Linked DNA regions of Homo sapiens. The protein of the gene in region 1 interacts with the protein of each later gene in a pairwise test. Each region holds a gene or a part of one and is shown on either strand. Other genes may lie near its edges.

Region 1 (7,024 bases):
ACTCTGTTGCCCAGGCTGGAGCGCAGTGGTGCGATCTCAGCTCACTGCAGCCTCCGCCTCCTGGGTTTGAGTGATTCTCCCACCTCAGTCTCCCAGGAAGCTGGAATTACAGGTGCACGCCACCACACCCAGCTAATTTTTGTATTTTTTGGTAGAGATGGGGTTTCACTATGTTGGCCAGGCCGGTCTTGAACTCTTGACCTCAAGTGATCCACCCGCCTCGGCCTCCCAAAGTTCTGGGATTACTGGTGTGAGCCACCGCGCCCGGCCTTGTTTTGTTTTAAGACAGGGTCTCACTGTCGCTCAGGCTGGATTGCAGTGGCACAATCACAGCTCACTGCAGCCTCGACCTGCTAGACTTAAGCAATCCCCCCACCTCAGCCACCTTAGTAGCTGGGACTTACAGGCATGAGAGATACCATGCCTGGGTAATTGTTAAGTTTTTGTAGAGGTGAGGTCTCACTATATTACCCAGGCTGGTCTCAAAGTCCTGAGCTTAAGTGATCCTCCTTCCTTGGCCTCCTAAAGTGCTGGGATTACAGGAGTGAACTGCCGTGCCTGACCAGTCTGTTTTGTTTACGATTGTATCCTCAGCGGTTAGAACAATGCCTGCCACAATCCATCTCAGTAAATATTTGTGGAGTGAGTCATAACATGGGCCACACTGTACCGTGCCACCAGCCCAAAGATCTCTTAAAGTCACCCCTGTCTCATGTGCTTGGGAGCTCCAGTGACAGTTTCGGGGCAGTTTGCTTCCAGCTGTGGTCCAGCCAAGCGGAGTGAATGAAAGAGATGCTTTTTCCTTTTGTGAAAGGACGTTTTGCTCTGGCTCACGTGAGCAGCAGTGCATTTTGAGACGAGGGCCTTGGCTTTTGGAATCTAAGAGCCTGTTGAGCAAGCCTCGCTCAGCCACCTTCTTTCAGCTTTCTCCTGAAGGCAGTTTGAGGATTAAGAGCCTGATGCTCTGGATTCCACCTAATTGGGTTCAGATCCTGGCAAACTGTGTAACCTGTGCCCCAGTTTCCTGTGTAATGTGGAGAGACCTGGACCTTTTCTTACAGGTGTTTGGAGGGTTAAATGTGGCAATTCGGCCGGGCGCAGTGGCTCATGCCTGTAACCCCAGCACTTTGGGAGGTGGAGGTGGGCGGATCACCGGAGGTCAGGAGTTCAAGACCAGCCTGGTTAACATGGTGAAACCCCGTTTCTACTAAAAATACAAAAAATTAGCCGAGTGTGGTGGTGCGCGCCTGTAATCCCAGCTAGTCTGGAGACTGAGGCAGGAGAATCGCTTGAACCCGGGAGGCAGAGGTTGCAGTGAGCCAAGATCACGCCATTGCACTCCAGCTTGGGCAACAAGAGTGAAACTCTGTCTCAAAAAAAAAAAAAAAAAAAAAGTGGCAATTTACCCGAAACTGTGGTGAAGCGTCTGGCGCCCTGTGGGTGCTGGGCAGCAGTGGGTGCTGATGGGGTGTGAGGGGATGGGATCAAGCCCTTTCCCACTAACTTAGGAAAGAGGTTGGAATGAGCTGGGGTCAGAGGGAACATTTGCGGGGACATTTTGCCGGGAGGCTGCCTTGGAGGTTCAGAGGCTCAGATGACCCCTGTGTTCATTCAGTGTTTTCTCACCCACAGATTGAGCACCTGCTGTGTGGCCAGCCCTTTGCCTAGTGCTGTTCAAGAGTCAGAGGACATAGGCAGGCAATCCCCCACCACAACCTGCCACCCCATTTCCTCTCTTGGGGCCTTGATTTCTCCACATGCCAAACAGGGAGAATGATTGCACCTTCCTTGTTTCTTTTTTTTTTTTTTTGAGACAGTCTCACTTTGTCATCCAAGCTTTAGTGCAGTGGCATGATCTCGGCTCACTGCAGCCTCTGCCTCTCGGGTTCAAAGATTCTCCTGCTTCAGCCTCCCAAGTAGCTGTGATTATAGGCACCCACCATCACGCCAGGCTAATTTTTTTTGTAGTTTTAGTAGAGATGGGGTTTTTTTCTCACACGTTGGCCAGGCTGGTCTTGAACTTCTGACCTCAGGTGATCTGCCCATCTCACCCTCCCAAAGTGCTGGGATTACAGGTGTGAGCCACCGCGCCCGGCTGCGCCTTCCCTGTTTCTTTGTGAGCTTGGAGGTGGATCACAAGTGTGAAACCCTTTGCCAACCGTGAGGCATGGTGGCCTTGTGAGAGGACGGAGGCCGGTGTGTGGTGGCATGCTCCCGTGCTGTGTGGCACAGACGGAGCTACAGGAAGGAAGTTGGGGCAGCTTGGCACTCTGAGTGGACCCTGAGTTTCCAGCCTGCTCTGTCTTGACTGGGTGGGAGGAGGGTGCTCAGGAGGGTGTCACTGCTGCCAGGTTCTGCTGCCAGGACCATCCAACAGTTGTTCCAATCATGGGACATCCTGTCGTCAGCAGCTGGGGCTCGTGAGGCCTGATTTCCACCTCGGGCAGTTCTGTGTGTGCTCCTGGAATCCCCCACGTGGCCAAGCCTGTGAGGTCTGCTTCCTGGCCTGCTGCCTGTGGGTTCCTGTCACGCACCTCTCGGGCAGCTGTCCGGCTCCTCTGCTCTCGGCTTAGTCAAGAAGGAAGCAGAAGGCTTGGAGTCTTTCCTGCTTGGACTAGGAGTGAGCTCAGCCTAAGTGCCCTGACTATATATAAAGCTGAACTTTCCAGACCGAAGCCTGGGGATGGATCAGTCCGATCACTTAGGGCCGCTCCTGAAGGAGTGCAGGTGCTAGATACAGGTTCTCCCGGTGGAGGAGCGAACCCCTTGTGGGCCGTTAGCTACTGGTGGGATTTGAGCATGGTATTTCCCTATCCGTTGTGGAGAGGAGCATGGCAGCTCAGAGTGGGTGGGAACAGTGTGTGGTCCCTGTTATCACCTTCAAGGGAATAAAGTGTGTCTGGGGGCTTCAGAGGTGCTGGCCCCATGGGCTTATAGGTGGTTCATTCATTCATTCTCATTCATTCATTCACCAAACTTATTAAACACCCACTGTGAGTCAGGAACATCATGCCAGGTGCTTAGGGAAACAAATCAAAGCGGGTTGGGTGAGCAGCCCAAGCCAACAGATGCACCCCCATTCTCACATGGTGTGTGTTCCTGTGGGCTGGGCCCTGGGTGGTGTGGGGTGCTGGGGAGAAGAGGAAGGCACACCAGGCTGCAGGGCGGAGGTGCGGGTATGAATTTTCAGAGGAGATGGCACCTGAGCTGTATCTTCATGGATAAGAAGAGATTTGTTCATTTGTCCTTTGTGGAGCACACATTCAGGTTAAGAAAGTGGGGAGGATGGGCTACGCTGATGGAGCGTATGTGTGGTATCCCCAAGTGCACTGAGACACGAGTTTGACGTGTTCTGGGAAGATCGATGGTGCGGCGTGGCTGGAGTAGAGGTGAGGGATGAGTTGGAGGGGTGAGTTGGGCCAGCTCTCATGGATGCTGGAGTCTGGGCTTTCCCTGGGAGGTCATGGGGCGCCACTGGCCAGGGTCAGCAGGGAGACCTGCAGCTGGATTTGCATCGTACAGTGGGCATGGAGGGGTGTCAGGCTGGGTTGGGAACCGTGCAGGCTGGAAGGGCACTCTGGTGCTCTGAGCATTCAGAGGGGGCAGCTGGGCCTTGAAGGATGAGCAGGGGCTCCAGCAGGAACTGGAGAGCGCATTCCAGGGAGGACGCAAGTGCAGGCCCCTTTCACTACAGAAAAGCAGTTTTCACACAGACCTTCCAAAGGGGAGGAGAGGGGACTGCCTGGGCCTGGCAGCTGCGGCAGGTAGCAGCAATCAGAGGGCAGGGACCGCTCCTCCCGTGCCTGAGACCTGCCCAGGGTCCTTCAGGGAATTCGTAGCTGAGGAGGAACCAGATTTTTGGGACTGAGTTCTCCCTCACCACCCGCTCTGAGCCACCCTCTTGGTCCCTTGTCCTCTACTGCACTTCTTCCGGGGCTTGGCTCCTCGTCATGAGAGGAGCTTCCCTGGGCATGGCGAGGGGCGTGACTGACATAGCAGCCCTGGACAAGTGGCTCCAGGTGACCTGTGTTCACGTTGATCACAGCACTAACCACGGCCCCTCCTCTCAGCACCTTCCCCTCTCGAGCCGTCCAGTCCCAGTGAAAATGCTCACCGTTCATGGGTGGGCTGAGCAAGCCCCTGATCTCTGCCTTCCTCCGTGTTCTGATCTGCTTCATCTGCTGTGAAGGCCTCTCGCCATTTCCCCCGCTGGCAAACTCCTGTTCTTCCTGGAAAGTTCAGCTAAAAAGTCATCCCCTTTAGGGGTCCTTCCCTCAGGGGACCGTGCACTTGGCGAGACAGGGACTGGTCTTGGGTCTCTCTGTTGACTGTTTTATGAACCCAGGTAGTCACTTCCAGGGAACTCATCAGAGATGCTACCATTGGCTCCAATCTCCCTCTGTTCCCACTCGAGGTTTTTTGTTTCTTCGTTTGTTTTTCTTTCTTTCTTTTTTTTTGAGACAGAGTCTCGCTCTCGCCCAGGCTGGAGTGCAGTGACATGATCTCGGCTCACTGCAAGCTCCGCCTCCCGGGTTCACGCCATTCTCCTGCCTCAGCCTCCCGAATAGCTGGGACTACAGGCACCCGCCACCACGCCCAGCTAATTTTTTTTGTATTTTTAGTAGAGACGGGGTTTCACCATGTTAGCCAGGATGGTCTCAATCTCCTGATTTCGTGATCCGCCCGCCTTAACCTCCCAAAGTGCTGGGATTACAGGCGTGAGCCACTGCGCCCAGCCCGTTTGTTTTTGTTTTTTGGTGGACATCAACTTTAATTTGCCCTTTGTTTTGTTTTGTTTTTGAGGCAGGGTCTTGCTCTGTCTCCCAGGCTGGAGTGCAGTAGTGCAATCTTGGCTCACTGCAGTCTCGACCTCAAGAGGATCAAGCAATCCTCTTGCCTTAGCCTCCCGAGTAGCTGGGACCACAGGCGCACACCACCATGCCCAGCTAATTTTATTTTATATTTTGTAGAGACAGGGTTTTGCCATGTTCCCCAGGCTGGTCTCAAATTCCTGGGCTCAAGCAATCCGTCTGCCTCAGCCTCCCAAAATGCTGGAATTACAGGCACGAGCCACTGTGCCCGGCCTTAATTTGCCCTTTGAACATGTACAATTCAGGGCCTCTCTGGGCCTCAGTTTCTTGATCTCTGAGATGGGAAGATGGGATAATAATACTTGTTCCTCCCGTCCTTCAGCTCCTCCAGGGGACCCTCACACCAGCACACTCTCTGTCAGTCTTCCCTCAATGAACCCAGCAGGCAAGCTTGGTTTTGACAGAGGATGGGTGAGCAGAGATAAGGAAAACGGCCAGAAATATCTGGCTTCCCTCAGCAGGGGCACCAAAATTGGTACCTGGAAATTGCCTGGCTTGGACAGGCAGAATTGTCACTGTCAACCCCCACCACCAAAGGTCTTGGGTCTTTGTCTTTCTGCTTGTGGTGTTTGAGAGAGCTGCTTGACACAGCCGAGGTGCGGTCTGTGTCAGGTGACCTGGGCATCCTGGGGGTGCAGGGAGAAGCCCAGGTAAGGAGGAGGAGGGGCCGGTCATCAGTGGGGAAAAGTGATTGTCTACCCCACGGGAAGGTCAAGGGTAGGACGCTGTGAGAAGCCAGGGGGAGAGATGAAGTGAGGCATGATGCGGGGGGCCCTCATCCACCATCCCCCTCTTGCAGCTGTGCTGGGAAGAGCCTAGGCTCCAGGGTCCAAGGTGGCAGGGACAGAAGGAAGCACGTGTGAGCACTTTCTCCCTGCTGGCCCGCCTTCCTGGTTGGCAATGCCGTGAGTGTTCCAGGATGTGGCCCCGTGGCTGTCATTTCCTTTCTTCCACCTAGTGATAACAATGGCCACTGTTTGTGTGCCCACAGTCGGCCTGTGTCCCAGACACCTTCCCTCCATTGCGTCATCTCGTCCTCCTGCCTACCCTGAAGGCTGGATGCCAGCCAAGCCTGTCGTTTCTGTGGCCATGCTGTCGTGGGTGTGTGGGGGGCATCCCCTAGCCCCAGGCTCTGGTGGGGGGTACACAGGCTGGGCCATTGACGAAGGGGTGTGTGGAATCTTTCTTTGATTTCACTGCACCCCTGGTGACTTTCTCCCTCAATCTGAGGCTCATGGGTGCTGGATGCTCTTGACTCTCTGCCCTTCCTGGGCGCACCCCTCCGCGTCCCTGTGGGCCCGTCCTCGGGGTAGCCTCTCTGCGCTCTTCCAGGCCAGGCCTGAGTCCCACAGGTCCCCATCTTCCCGGCTGCAGCCCCCAGAGGCTCAGCCTATACTGCTACTTCCTTTGAAAACTATAATCGCTTTACATAGCATCTGGAAAATAGGGAAAAGGAAAAAACAAAAGCCCATAAACCCAGCACCCTCATCTACTCAATGGCATGTTTTCTGTCAGTCTATCTTGGTTTGTTTTCTATCAGGCTTTGTTTTTTCTATGCATAATATTTACTCAGTTAAATTTTTGTTTTGACAAACTTTCTGTGAGCCAAGCTTGTGGACGGAGATGAAAAGACGAGCAGCTGCCTTTGAGAAACTCAGACTCTGGGCCAGCCCATCTGGGTGCCAGCTTTCACTGCTCCACCCACTAGCTGGGTGACCCTGGGCCCGTGACTTTACCCCTCTGTTCTTTGGTGTTCTCATATGTAAAATGAGGATAATAATAGTAACCAGTTCATAGAGTGGTTGTCAGACAGAATGATTAATGTACGTAAAGCTTTCAGGATGGTGCCAGCAAGATGCACAGGAGTGTTTGGTAGGAGGATGACGAAGCTTACCGTCTGGCAGGAGGGGCAGTTGTAACATGCTGGGCTGTGATAGTACAGATGTGTTTAAAGTGAGGGAGAGCCCAGAGCAAGGAGAGAGAACCTGGCATCTGGTGATGGTGTATCAAGAACATTTTAGGCCAGACACGGTGACTCACACCTGTAATCCCAGCACTTTGAGAGGCTGAGGCAGGCAGATCGCTTGAACCCGGGCGTTCGAGACCAGCCTGAGCAACGTGGTAAGACCCTGTCTTTATAATTTTTTTTTTTT
Region 2 (6,966 bases), on another chromosome or scaffold:
CACTACATTCCAGCCTGGGCAGCAGAGCGAGAGTCCGTCTTAAAAATAATAAATAAGGGCCGGGCGCGGTGGCTCACGCCTGTAATCCCAGCACTTTGGGAGGCCGAGGCGGGTGGATCATGAGGTCAGGAGATCGAGACCATCCTGGCTAACAAGGTGAAACCCCGTCTCTACTAAAAATACAAAAAATTAGCCGGGCGCGGCGGCGGGCGCCTGTAGTCCCAGCTACTCGGGAAGCTGAGGCAGGAGAATGGCGTGAACCCGGGAAGCGGAGCTTGCAGTGAGCCGAGATTGCGCCACTGCAGTCCGCAGTCCGGCCTGGGCAACAGAGCGAGACTCCGTCTCAAAAAAGAAAAAAAAAAAAAAATAATAATAATAATAATAAATAAATAGCGTTGTATGGCAGATGCACCTGACAGCAATAACTTTAAGCATACCCTGAGAATACCCTGTGGTCTAAGAAGAATGTGTGCTTGGAGCTAAGGAATCCGGGAATGGCCAAGGCGAATATTCACTCCTTATCTGTGGAGCTGCTTGGGAGGCTGAGGCTGTAGAATTACGTGGGGCCCAGGAGTTCGAGGCTGCAGTGAGCTGTGATGGCACCACTGCTCTCCAACGTGGGTGACAGAGGGAGACCCTGTCTTGAAATAATAAAAATAAATAAATTATGCCCAGTTAGCCACTTGGGATCCATCTTGAAGGACTGGCTTTTTCAGGTTCACATTTGTTCACAAATGCAAACACACACACAACAATTCCTCATAATTTATATTAATAGATTTCTCTGAATGCCTCTTAGAGTTTACCATGCGCTGTGTGCTCTAAATGAATGTAACATTAAAAGTCAGATGATTTTTTTAGTTCAATTTGAATGGCAATTTTTGATGTTCTTAAATTGGTACAGAGCCATAATTCAGAATAGCGGTGCAAAGCTCACTGAGCACGTTCATGACCCTTGAAAGTCTTCGAAAACAGATTACTGGGCTTCGCTCCCAGAGAATGATTTCGTTTCTTAGGTTCTGTGGTGCAGGCAGGTTTGGAAATCACTTATCTAGAAGTCCTTAATGCTTTGTGAAACTTAAGGCCGCTCACTCCATCTACCATTTTCTCAGAGGGCAGCATAGTATTAATGGAAATGACCCGTTGCATTTTACTTCTTGCGTGCTGTTACCACCACTGCCTTTTACTCTCCTTTGAAATAATTAAAAGCACTGGGAAGGGAAAGCACTGGAGAATTTTACTAAACATAATCTGTTGCAATAAGGTGTAACTAAATAAAATGATAGAAAACTGTGCCTTTTAGAACAGGAATCAACTGCATGATCTGTGTGCTTTCCAAAAGTGTGGCTCACTCTTCTTTTGCAAAAGAAAACTACAAGGAATCTTGACAGGAAGTTGTTGGGTTTTTGTTTTTGTTTTTGTTAAGTAGTTAGTTCTACCAAATAGTTTTGCAAATAGACCCAGGCTTGACTGGCAATTAAACATGAAACTTCTCATTGGGTATTTTCGAGACTACTACGGGGAATCAGCTACCAGCTTACTGCCATGTGGAGAACTGCACGAGATTCCGGGATTGGAATCAAAATGCTAATTTAAAAGGTCAAGTGAAGCTGCTCCTCACGTTTTGGCGTGCCTGCGCTCTCTGCAGGCAGAAGCGAACAAAGACCCAGCAAGAGAAGGCAGAGGCTAAGACCCATCCCGTATCTGCTCTCCTGAAATAATTCTGGAGTCATGCCTGAAATGCCAGAGGACATGGAGCAGGTAAGAACTAGCAATTCAAGAAATGAAGCATTCTAGAGTAAGAGATGCTTTAAAAGCATTCCAGTGAACGCCTGCTAAAACCAGAATTGTTGTGTAAAGAAAATAGAAACGGGTGTCATTCATTTCCTTAAAACATAACCTCGGGACATGGAAGAATAAGCCAACTTTAGTTACTGACCCGGAGAACCAGGTTATGAAGGGCTCAGCTAAGTCTCACTAGCTGACAATACAGAATTGCACTTTCATTTACCATTTTAAATGCAATTATGTATATAAAGTTTCTACATAAATAAGGATTTTATCTGTAGTGTGTTCCTTTCCAGATGTTCTTTGTCTTTGTATGAATTGAATCTGCTAACATAACTTTTAGTTTCAGGCTGCTCTCTTTAAATGTATAGACTTAGCCACCACACGAAGTTGTATATTGTCTATGTTAAGAATGGCGTTTGATTCGCATAGACCCTACCATCATTAAAGAAAATGATTAAAAACCATATCCAAACATATGCCCCTAGAACTGTACCCAACTTTTACGGGGAAAGTATCAAGTCAGATTTTCAAAAGCAGCCAAGTTAAATTCTTTCTGTTCCTCAAGACTAGGCTGCTCTGAGAATCAGAATGCTAATTGCATATGCTTGCCCTTAAACCTGCTTCACGTTGAAGAATGAAGAATTAATTTTCTTTTCTCCCATAGAAAGGTAAGATTACATCACGTGTTGCGACTAGAAACTTTAAACCGAATTCCCAGTTAAGAGAAAAAGTAGTAAGATGATCTTGGCTGCTCCCCCGGCCCTCTTCCCGCCCTCTTCTTTGTTGTCCCCTGATTATGCTTGTTTAGCGCTGGGGCAGTCCTCAAGGATTCCCTAAATAAAGCCAAACTAATGAACAGTAATAGCCTGTGTTTAAAAAAAAAAAAAATCGGAACATAAGAAACCTCAGGCTGTCTTCGATTACTGTTCTAGAGAAACTTTATGTTTACACGAATAAGGAAATGAGTTTTTGTTGGGGGTTGAGGAGGAAGGAAAGTCATGGTGTTCTGACGTGGAAAACTTCTTTAAAAGGCTGCTTAGTCTTTAGTTTGAAAATAAACCAAAAAGGTTTAGGAGTCGGGGAAAGGCCCTAGGAAAATCCAGACAGTGGTCACGTTTGTGGACGACGTTTAGAGCTTGCTATCCTGGGCACACAAGAACCCTTGGACTGTTCGGTGCAAAGTTGGCAAATCCTACACGGCCTGTGCCAGGGTTTACTTTCTGCATCAATTTCACAGGCGTCCAGCCTGGCTGAGGATTTTTTGCGGTTTTTAACTGGAAGGGAAATAAGTCGGCATCAGCACTTAGGGCTGCTTAACTTTTAAAAGGTGGTAGAACGCCCAGCCTTACACGCTGCTGCTTAAATTCTCGGTGCTCACCAAGGCTGGGCTCGTGTGGCCCAATCCTGCAATCCCCGAGGCGGTGTTTCTTAAAGAGTGGGCTTGATTCTGGTTAAACCCATTAAGAAGTCGGACCCCGGGCTCGTTTCTTGTTCTGTAATTATGGGTAAAGTCCAAGGATCTGCGTTTTGAAGAGGTACCTAAGTAGTTCATCTTCCTTCCCCCTACAACTTTTTATTTTTAATTAGTTAAAAATAGTTTTACATTTTTGATATCTCACACACAGGTTTTTTCTTTTTTTAAGCATCCCAGGAAGACAAATGGCTCAGACGCCAACCCTTTTATTTTTATTCCTTGTCTTTTTCTAAATCTTTCAAAACCCCCACCTAGAGCTCTAGAGATGTGTCCATTATGCTCTACCCACCTCCGCCCCCGCCCCCATGACTTTAAAATGCTTTTTATTCCACTTTTTATATTGCTCAGTCGATCCTCATGCACTGCGCAGTCTGCAAACTTGAAACTCAAGGCGATCCACTTCAATCTTTTCCCGAGTCAAGAAAAAAAGGAAAAAAAGTAGAATAAAAAGCACTCAAATAAAATCTCCGAAACAAAACCTGAATTCACTGCCTAAGGTCAGGGCCTTTCTTTTGTGTGTCGCTTTAAGCATCGGCGCGTGGGCTGGGGGCAGACCGCGCGTACCCGCCCTCTTTCTGGGGCGTCGGCGGAGCGTGGCCAATCAACGGGCGCGGCTATGGCAGCGGAAGCCGGAAGCGGCGAGCGGGGTCGTTCTGGGCCTAGGGGAGGCGGGCCGAGGGCGTCTGAGCTGAGGCCCGCGTCGATCCTGGGTTGGAGGAGGTGGCGGCCGCTGAGGCTGCGGCGTGAAGACGGCGGGCATGGTGGGGCGGGAGAAAGAGCTCTCTATACACTTTGTTCCCGGGAGCTGTCGGCTGGTGGAGGTGAGGGAGTCGGCCTGGGCGTCTCCGGTGGGAGCGGGGGCGCCGAGGGGGACGAGCCACCGGGGCTCGGGCGGCTTTGCAGGCGTATTCCGCCCGGGTCAGAGCCTCCGGCCGGGAGTGGTCTCACCGCCACCCTCCCAGCCCCGGATCCGAGGGGGGCGCCACCGAGTTTGTTTATCTCAGCGCACACGGGTCAGTGTTTTTTTCTTCCAGCCACTGCGGCAGGAAGCAAGTAGGTGGAGGTTTTACTTTCGAGTTCTGTCTCTGCTCCTGAGGACGAAGAGGTTTTTCAGAATTGTTTGTTTTGATTTTGGTTTTCCCCGTTTATTCATCTTTGGTTCGTATTTCTCGATCTTACAAGTTCGTAGGTTTGAGAAAGAACAGGAAAAGGTGACTTCTCACAAATAACAGTGCTGGAGATGACAACTTATTGAACTCTTAAGTTCTCAGCACTATGTTATGCACTTGACGGGCATTACTTTAATCCTCCACTGTGAGATACTTGTTATTGCCTCATTTTGTAGACGAGAAAACGGGCATAGAGGGTGAGACATTGGCCCAGGTTCATTCCGTAAGGTTGGAGCCTGGAATTCAGATACAGGTTTGTGTGACTGTCTTGGGCTTTGAACCACTACGGAGTTTCCCTGAAGGAAGATTATGGTGATGATTGGAAGATCCATCTCTGGTGCCCCCCTCGCCCCCGTCCCATCCTGCTCCATTCCACTTAAGGGCCTCCAGCATTAATCTGTCCACAGAACATATCCAACCCTGGGGATAAGAACACTACTAATGCCCAGACCATGTCTTTTGGAGAGAGTAGAGAATATAGGAGATGGCTGTTTCTGTTATTGCAAAGTTTTCATGCTTCCAAATTTACTTAGGGTTTTCAAATCACTTTGGTTCTTTGAGGGTAAAGTTAGGATAAATGGTCTATTAAACCTCTATGTTCCTAGGTCCTCCAGACCGTGCTGAGTGCATGTTACATACGTTTACATTTATATGTATGCATTTGTATGTGTACGTGTGCATATAAAGCTTAATCTACTTTCACAAAAAGAAGTTCAGTATAAAAATGAAAATAGCTTTTCGTGTTTTCCTTCATTAAAAATGAAACAACGAAGAGCTTGGCACAGACTTACTGCTCTCAAAACCTGTAGAATTAAAGCTTACTGACTCATGAGAACGAGAACTGTCTCATAGTTAACGTTAGAGAAGCATCCTGGAGTGGTTGTTGTTAGTAATACTGTCTGTGGAGCACAGTAGCGTCGCAGTAGAAGTTAGACCAATCCCACCTAAGTAGTCAGAGAATCTTAAAAAGTAAAGCCCAGTAATGTTTACCTTAAGGGTCTGTTTCTGGGGAATTAAAAAATTAAACATGGAACTGTGCCAAGTTTTAAAGTTTCCAAAAACGACAAGGTATTTACCACTGAAATTTGGGAAAACCACATACTAATAGTATTCCATTCTTTACTTTTCTAGAACATTTTTAGTAGACATTAATGCAGGTGTGCTAAAGTAGAAATCACTGTCCCAGAGTACTGTGTTGGACCATTTGGAAGGAGCCATGTATCTCCCATTACCTATACAATTTGGTATCATTCGATTAGATACGATAATAAGAATATTTATTTATATGTACTTAATTTTTCAAGAAATGTTTTTTTGGTGTCCATAAATCTGGTCCCTTGGAGTGATTGAATTCCGTACTTCAGAGTTTAGACAATAAGAGGCAGATACGTTTAGAGTAACTTAAACTGATATTAGATCTACTTTCCCCCATATAATAAAAATTGAGAAAAAGTAGACTTCAGGCAAAGTATTATCAACTCTTTATTGTGCCTTGAGTGAACTAGATAGCATTTTATTCTTTCATTCTGACTTTCTTAAAGTGTTTAGACATTTCTTCCTTGTGCACAACTAAAATAATTTATGGAGTGCAGGTCCAAAGTAGTTTTTAGAGGGATATTTCTTTTTCTAAAGAACGAACCAAAAAGCCTCAACAAAACAGTGTAAAAGGCAGAGTATTGCTTATATAGAAGCTCAAAAACAGAGATATTTGTTTGGCATATTTTAAATTTCGGAGTAATGCATATTCAGAGGAAAAGTTACCTTATTTAAGTAAACGAAACTATTCGGACTCCTCGTGGTAGGGATAATATGGAAAATGTTAGAAATATAGAACTTTAAAGCTGAAAGAGCCTTAGTCATTTTGTCTAAATGCCTTCCCCATTTACCAATGAGGAATTAGATCAATAGAGATAGAATAACTTCTAAACACCAATTTGTGGCAGAACAGATAAAACTTTAATCATTCATGAAACCAAATATTAGTTCACAGGATTGAGACAAAATGCAGTGTATTTGACTTGACCAGAGAAGCAAGACTCAGGTTCTGGTTCCAGCTTTTTCTCTTTTACTATAGACAAAACATTTAACACTGGACTTCTTGTTACTCTCTTTGGAAATAATATCTCTTCTAACAAGCTGCTGGGTTTTTTTGTTTTCTTTTTTTTCCTCTTGCTCTTTCACCCCGTCTGAAGTGCAGTGGCTCAATCTCTGCTCACTGCAACCTCTGCCTCCAGGGTTCAAGCGATTCTCCTGCCTCAGCCTCCCAAGTAGCTGAGATTATAGGCGCCCACCACCATGCCCGACTAGTTTTTCTATTTTTGGTAGAGACAGCGTTTCACCATGTTGGCCAGGCTGGTTTTGAACCCCTGACCTCAAGTGGTTGGTCCACCTTGGCCTCCCAAAGTGCTGGGATTACAGGCGTGAGCCCTGGCACCCGGCCTCAAACTGCTATTAAAAAAACAAAAACAGCTATGATTGTATACTTATATAACACGTTAGTTTTCTTTTTTTTGGTTTTTTTGTTTGTTTGTT
Region 3 (7,024 bases), on another chromosome or scaffold:
ACCTTTCATCTACTAAAATGTCTCTGTTTTCTTTGACCAAAGGAGAGGATATCCTTATACCAAAAGGAAACTGACTCGAAGATGTTACAGCCTGTTTCCTAAAGATTTGGTTCTAAGATTGGTTTTCTTTCCTTTCTTTATTATCATAACAATACATGGTCACTGTAAAAGTTAAAAAAAAATAAGCAAAGAGAAGAAAATAAAAATCACCCACAATCCCACCATTCAATGATAACCACTAAGCATAGTTTTCAGTCTTTTTTTCTATGTAGATAATGAATTTTAGTTTTTTATTCAGCTATTTATACTTTTTCAAAAAATAAAAATAGGATAAGTTTTTCACTTAGTGATATATCTTGAATAGCTGCATAATTTCTTGATATTAACATTTTATAAACAAGCCTCCACTATTCACACTAACCTTTTTCTGATTTTTCAAAATTATAAACTGCTGAAGTAAACACCTTTGAAGCTAAGTCTTTGTGCAAATCCATGATTAATTCCTCAAGATAAATACTTGTGAGTGAATTCCTTGAAGAATTATGTCTTTAATTTAAGGTGCTTAATACATATTATACCAAATTGTTCTCCATACCAATTTGTACTCTCATCAGCAGTTTAGGAGAACACCATTATTCTGATCCTATACATTATCTCTAAAAATATATTCCTGCTTTGACAGGTGAAAAGTTATACCTTGTTTTCATTTATGTTTTTTGTCTATTTATAGAGCCATTTGTTCTTTGGTCCATTTCTTTCAACCAAACTGTTCCTATTGTCTTTTTGTTTTTCACTCTGGTAAACAGACTTCATTATATGTTGCAAGTATTTTTCCCAGTGTCTCATTACTTTGTAAGTTTCTCTATGGTATTTTTAAGTGGATAAAAGTTTCTTATCTTTTTAAATCAGAGCTATAAATCCTTTATGGCTTCTGCCTTTGATGTCCATCCCAACATTATATAAATACTTGCTTATACGTTGTCTAGTACTCTTGTTACTTCATTTTTTAAAAAATATTAAATATTTCCTCTACCCAGACTTTCTTTTAGTTTAAGGTACGAGGCAGACACCTGGGTTCCATTTCTCCAGGAGGCCGGCAGCTGGAAGCAAGCTTTCCTTACCTGTGCATCATACTTCACCGCAGCCGAGAGCAGAGCGATGGCATTCTCCTCGCAGATGCCTTGCTTGATAGTTTGTTGGCAGAGCTTTTTCAAACGATTTTCTCTATAAAATGTAGCCAAGTCTAGCAGTCCTGGCGGAAAGAGGTGTTTATTAGGGGGAGTGATTTCAAGCATCCTGATTTACAGTTGCTCACTCAGCCACTCAGAGATGATTTTGACACTATTTTAGATATAATCCTCAGTGAAGCACTGCATAGACTGATGCTGACTGACACTTACACTTCAGTGTGGGGCTCTACCCAGGATGGCAGCCAAGCTGAGCAAACATGATACACAAATCATTAGCTGTTGAAAAACAGGAGCACAGGGAAAATAGCTTTAATATTTTTTTCCTAGGAAAAAAGCATGTGCGCCTTGAATGACCCCTTCCCCTGCAATCTCAATGTCAGCTTCTCCTGGGCCACTCCCAGGAGCACACACACATGCTGTAAGAGTGCCCGCCGTGAAAAGAAAGAAAAGAAAAGAAGAAAAGAAAACAAAAGAGAAGAAAAGAAGAGAGGACAGGAGAGGGAGGGGAGGGGAAGGGAGGGGAGAAGAGAAGAGGGGAGGGGAGAGGAGGGGAGGGGAGAGGAGGGGAGGGGAGAGGAGGAGAGGGGAGAGGAGGGGAGGGGAGACCCTTTCATGGACACGTGTCTTCCTCCTGTTACCCTATCCCACTGCTCCTCTCTACAGCAAAACTCCTAGACAGAGCTATCTGTATCTGCTGTCTCCATTTTCCCACCTCCCATTCTGACCTCAAGCCATTACAAGCAGAACCCCATCCCCACCACTACTGCAGTCACACCCTTGGTGGTCACACCTGTGGCAGTCACAGTGGCTTTGAGGGTGCAATATTCTCTGGTTTCCTCTTACTCGACATTTACACAGAATTTGATATGGTTGATAATGCTCTCCTTAGGACACTTTGTCACTTGCTTGCATTTTTCTTCTCTTTAATTAGTTGCTCCTCAGTTCTCTAGGCTGGATCATTTTTCCTGACTTCCAAATGTTTGAGTGCCCCAGGGTTAAATCCTCAGACACTTTCCTCACTTACTTCCCAAAACCCCAGCCCCAGGGTTTTAAATATCATCTATATATGCAGGTGAGTCCTGTTATATTACCTGTCACCTATTTTCAAGTAATTCAACGTAGACTGGGTGAGGTGACATATGTAAATTAATTTTAATCTACCCCAAGGAATGATAGGAAGTACTCTAATTGAAGCAGTCAATCAGCATCTGAAAGATCCTATTTGTTTTTCTGAATCTTCATTACAGGATTTGTAATTAGCATAAAGAATGTCAGAATTAGTTTGTCATTGCTGAAATGAGTGGTAGCCAGGATCAAAAGGCTAGCTGAATCCGGCTACTAGAACACTGTCATGTCCACCTCAAGCTAACTTTTCATGCAAGGTACTTAATAGAGTGTACGAAGTATAAAGAGCAGGGATTTCATCAATTTTACCATATTAATTGTTTTTGTGTCTATCTGCTAATAAATCTTATACATGTGGTAGACTTTGGTTGGAAACTTGCTTTTTTAATAACAAATATTATCAAAGTTATAGAGGAAAGACAGATAGCCCACTGGAGGACACTGAAATCTTGAGTTGTGAATGGCTTCATTGTTTTTGGCCCCAAGCTTCAGACACACATGCAAGCTGCACTGCCCTAAGAGAGGACTCTGCCCCAAGCCCCAGCTCTGCGCCTCCTCCACGCACACCTTCAGCACAGGGTGGCTAAGGAGCCACATGCCCACTTCTAGACCACACTTTGGGTACCTGGGAACCTGGGACTGCCTGCATAATTGGCCTTGAGGCCACATGTGTGGGTATTTCCTCCCTTAGACCCCACCACCAATGTGCAGACCCCCTGGCCCAAAAGGGTAACCTGGGTTGGGGGTGGATAGAGCTTGGAATGCAAGCTAGGGTGCCCACACACCCTTCTGCTGGAGGAGGGGTCTGTCCTGCCTGTGCCATTGGGTTCTGGCACAAGAAGTCCTGCAACTCTAAATGTCAACTAAAATTGAAACCTGTCCTTTCAGTTCTTAATGAAATTACATTTTTCAAGGTGGGAGGATTGGACATATTTTTATCTGAAGTTCACTAGCTTGACATATAACTTTAAGTTTTTAGACATATGGAACATAGGTCTCCATTTGGAGTCTTGGCTACAGCCCCACAAATGTTAGTGGTGGGCCGATAAAAAACTGCCACTCGCGGCCGGGCGCAGTGGCTCACGCCTGTAATCCCAGCACTTTGGGAGGCCAAGATGGGCGGATCACCTGAGGTCGGGAGTTCAAGACCAGCCTGACCAACACGGAGAAACCTCGTTTCTACTAAAAATACAAAATTAGCCAGGCGTGGTGGTGCATGCCTGTAATCCCAGCTACTCGAGAGGCTGAGGCAGGAGAATCGCTTGAAACCGGGAGGCGGAGGTTGTGGTGAGCGGAGATCGTGCCATTGCACTCCAGCCTGGGCAACAAGAGTGAAACTCTGTCTCAAAAAAAAAAAAATTATCACTTGGGTATCTAATGGGAAGCTCAAACTCCTTTGACTTTCAAAGTCCAGAGCAAGCCTGTTGTTCTCTATCTTCCTCACCTCAGTGCCATTAAGGCAGCTACCCAGGCCAAGTACCTCAGTGCAGCCATCCTTCTCTCTCAACTCACACCTCTCATCCCATCTATCAACAAATCCCATCAGCAACCTCTTTAAAATATATCTAGAATCTGATCTCTTTTCAATACTTCCACTGCTATACAACCCCAACCCAGGAGACCATCATCTCACACCTGAACCAATATAATAACTGATGTTTTAAACACAGATCACATCTCTCCTGTGGCAGAAGCTGCTAGTTGCCTCTCTCCCGACCCCCACCCCAACACACACACACACACACACACACACACACACTCTCTCTCTCTCTCTCTCTCTCTCTCACACACACACACACATCCATTCTTCCTTTCTACTGAAACCACAGAATTTTTAGCCAAGCTACGGCCCTCTGGAAATGCCCATTTTCCCAGCCTCCTAAGCCACTGGGCACAGACTTGACTGACTCAGGCCCACAGTCTGAAATAAGTGGAATTCCTGGGCCCTGCTGGTGGAGACACGGGGATCTGCTGCATGGCCCTCAGTCTCTGTCCCTTCCTCCATGCTGCTGCCTGCAATGCTCCACGGTGGTGATGATTTGATTCTTCTCTCTCTTATCTGTCCAGTCAACCTTTGTAATAAAGTAGTAACAAGGGAAACGTGTTTGGATTCAACACACACAAAAAGAAATACTTCTGTAATTACCCTCACAGTGACTTTCTTTTAGGTTCTATAGAAACCACCTTGTCAGTTCCTCAACATTTTGCCAAGTTTTTGGAAGTCTTTGGCAATTACCTACTGCCTCCTCAGGAGAAAGGCTGATGCTGTCTGTGTATAGGTATTCCAGGAAGGCCCGGTAAACAGGATATGAAAATTCACTCATTTCTACAATATCATCCTCGTTATCTTCCAATGACGAACGAAAATGCTCACATCTGAAGGAAAAAAGCAGTATGTCAGGTCCTAGCTTCCCAGCCAGGACAGATGGCCTCTGTGAGGACCACGTTCTTCTCTCGAAGGTGCACGCTGGCACGTCCCTGCTGTGGCTCCTCACTTTCTTTGCTGGCCAGGGTTTTCAAACAATCATCTATTCAGCAAGGCTGTATATACAAACCTGCTGCCAGGGGTGGCCTGGGAAGCAGCCCCAATGGCCGTGCTAATGGGGACAGAGCTGGGCTCCCTGGCATCTCTCTCACACCACAACCACTGTCAGCATTTAGAGAAATCAGTGGGTTTATTTTTATAAAATCTAAGTAATTCTGTTTCCTCACTCCATTACGGGTTGAATGATGTCCTCTAAAAATTCCTGTGTTGAAGTCCTAATGGCCAATACCTCAAAATGTGACCTTACTAGGAAAGAGAGCCTTTAAAGAGGTAATCAAGTTATAAGAAGGTCACTAGGGTGGGCCCTAATCCAATATGACTGGCATCTTTATAAAAAGGGGAAATTTGGACAGGGCGCGGTGGCTCACGCCTGTAATCCCAGCACTTTGGAAGGCCGAGGCGGGTGGATCACGAGGTCAGGAGTTTGAGACCAGCCTGGCCAATATGGTGAAACCCCATCTCTACTAAAAATACAAAAATTAGCCAGGCATGGTGGTGTGCGCCTGTAATCCCAGCTACTCAGGAGGCTGAGGCAGGAGAATCACTTGAACCTGGGAGGAGGAGGTTGCAGTGAGCCGAGATCAGGCCACTGCACTCCAGCCTGGGCAATAGAGAAAGACTCTGCCATCTAAAAAAAATAAGGTGGGGGGAAATTTGGACACAGACATGCACAAAGGGAGAATGCCACATGCTGACTGGAGTTAAGCAGCCACATGCCAAGGAAGGCCAAAGACTGTCTGCAAATCCCCAGCAGCTAGGAAAGAGGCAGGAACAGATTCTCACTCACAGCCTCACAAGAAACCCATCCAGGTGACACTTTTGATCTGGGATTTCCAGCCTCCAGAACTTTATGTTGCTTAAGCCACCCGGGCCATAGTACTGTGTTACAGCAAACAAATCCACCCCCCTTCTTTCATGCAGGTTGATGTGATATAGAGAGAGTGAGCAAACGCTGCACAGCTTGATCTTACTAAAGAGGAACTTGAGACTAAAATGCTGTGTTGAGTGTGTGACTCACTGCAGTAGGATTTAAATATCTGTTACACAACAACATAATGAATTTCAAAATCATCATGTAAAAGAAAGAAGCCAAGCACAAATGAATGCATCCTGTATCATCCCATCTAAATACACTCTAGAAAATGCTAACTCAGCTACAGTGACAGAAGGAGCTGCGGTCACCCAGGGCTAGGACATGAGGGGTCTTTGAAGGGTGATGGGAATGTTCTCTGTCTGGATGTGGGGCAGTGGTTTCACAGGCGTAGACATGTGTCAGCACTCATCAAACTGCACATTTGAAATGCACACAGCTCATTGCTCAAAAACATTCACAAATGTGATTTTTTAAAATCTCTGTGCTAGCCTCACTATAGACCTTTTTGGTCTGGAAAGGCCTTGATCTTCTCTTTCTTAAACCATCTAAAAGTACGCCACAAGTGATTATAAGAAGGTGATTATTAAGAGCTGAGCTTGATTCCCAGGCAGAAACGGTAACTGATGGACGTCCAAGTATCAATACAGTGTTCAGAGCACAGGACACACTTGGAGCGTGCGCTGGCTGCTCCCTGCTGCCAAGGTGACCACGCCACTTTTCAAGCCTAAGGAACGCCTATGGTACTGGTTCCCGGAACCACACAACCTGTGTTATTTCTTGTTTCATGTATATTTCTCCCCGCTCCACTGTATGCTTGTAAGAGCAAAAACAGCCTTACAATTTTTCTTGATTACTGAGGTGCCTAATATAGTTGGACACTTAGAATATAATTGTTGAACGAATTACTTTTCTCAATTCTCAAATAAATGATTCCTTACCGAATCTTGAGAAGGACTTTATGTGCATAAATGTACTTTCCATCAACTAGAAACTTCAGGTCTGCAGTGTCCGGGTTGTCAAATTCCCTCTTCAGTGACTCAGCCACTGTGAGGTGGTCATCAGGTTCTAGGAGAATAATGCAAATGCTTCCAGAGTTAGCTACAGACATAATGAACACACAGGACAGGATATGGCACTACTCTACTGGTACTCATGAAAGTACCAATTCCTCAAAATAACTGAGCAACTGAGCAATGGATTTTTTCCCCTGAAGACAGATTTGCATCTCTGTAATCATTAAGAATAAGAATCTCACAAATATCTGCTTATAAATCTGGCAAAATAACAAGA

The links.
Region 2: the proteins of PLA2G6 (region 1) and MAT2B interact in binary tests that used the Homo sapiens proteins (3 or more experiments, as listed by UniProt).
Region 3: the proteins of PLA2G6 (region 1) and RCBTB2 interact in binary tests that used the Homo sapiens proteins (3 or more experiments, as listed by UniProt).

What each region holds. Positions count from the first base shown.
Region 1 is NC_000022.11:38,171,829-38,178,852, reverse strand, and holds part of PLA2G6 (85/88 kDa calcium-independent phospholipase A2), read left to right. Parts: intron 1-7,024. UniProt on the Homo sapiens protein: Calcium-independent phospholipase involved in phospholipid remodeling with implications in cellular membrane homeostasis, mitochondrial integrity and signal transduction.
Region 2 is NC_000005.10:163,501,664-163,508,629, forward strand, and holds the start of MAT2B (methionine adenosyltransferase 2 subunit beta), read left to right. Parts: upstream 1-3,955; 5' UTR 3,956-4,023; coding exon 4,024-4,086; intron 4,087-6,966.
Region 3 is NC_000013.11:48,495,070-48,502,093, forward strand, and holds part of RCBTB2 (RCC1 and BTB domain-containing protein 2), read right to left. Parts: intron 6,800-7,024; coding exon 6,673-6,799; intron 4,692-6,672; coding exon 4,552-4,691; intron 1,253-4,551; coding exon 1,122-1,252; intron 1-1,121.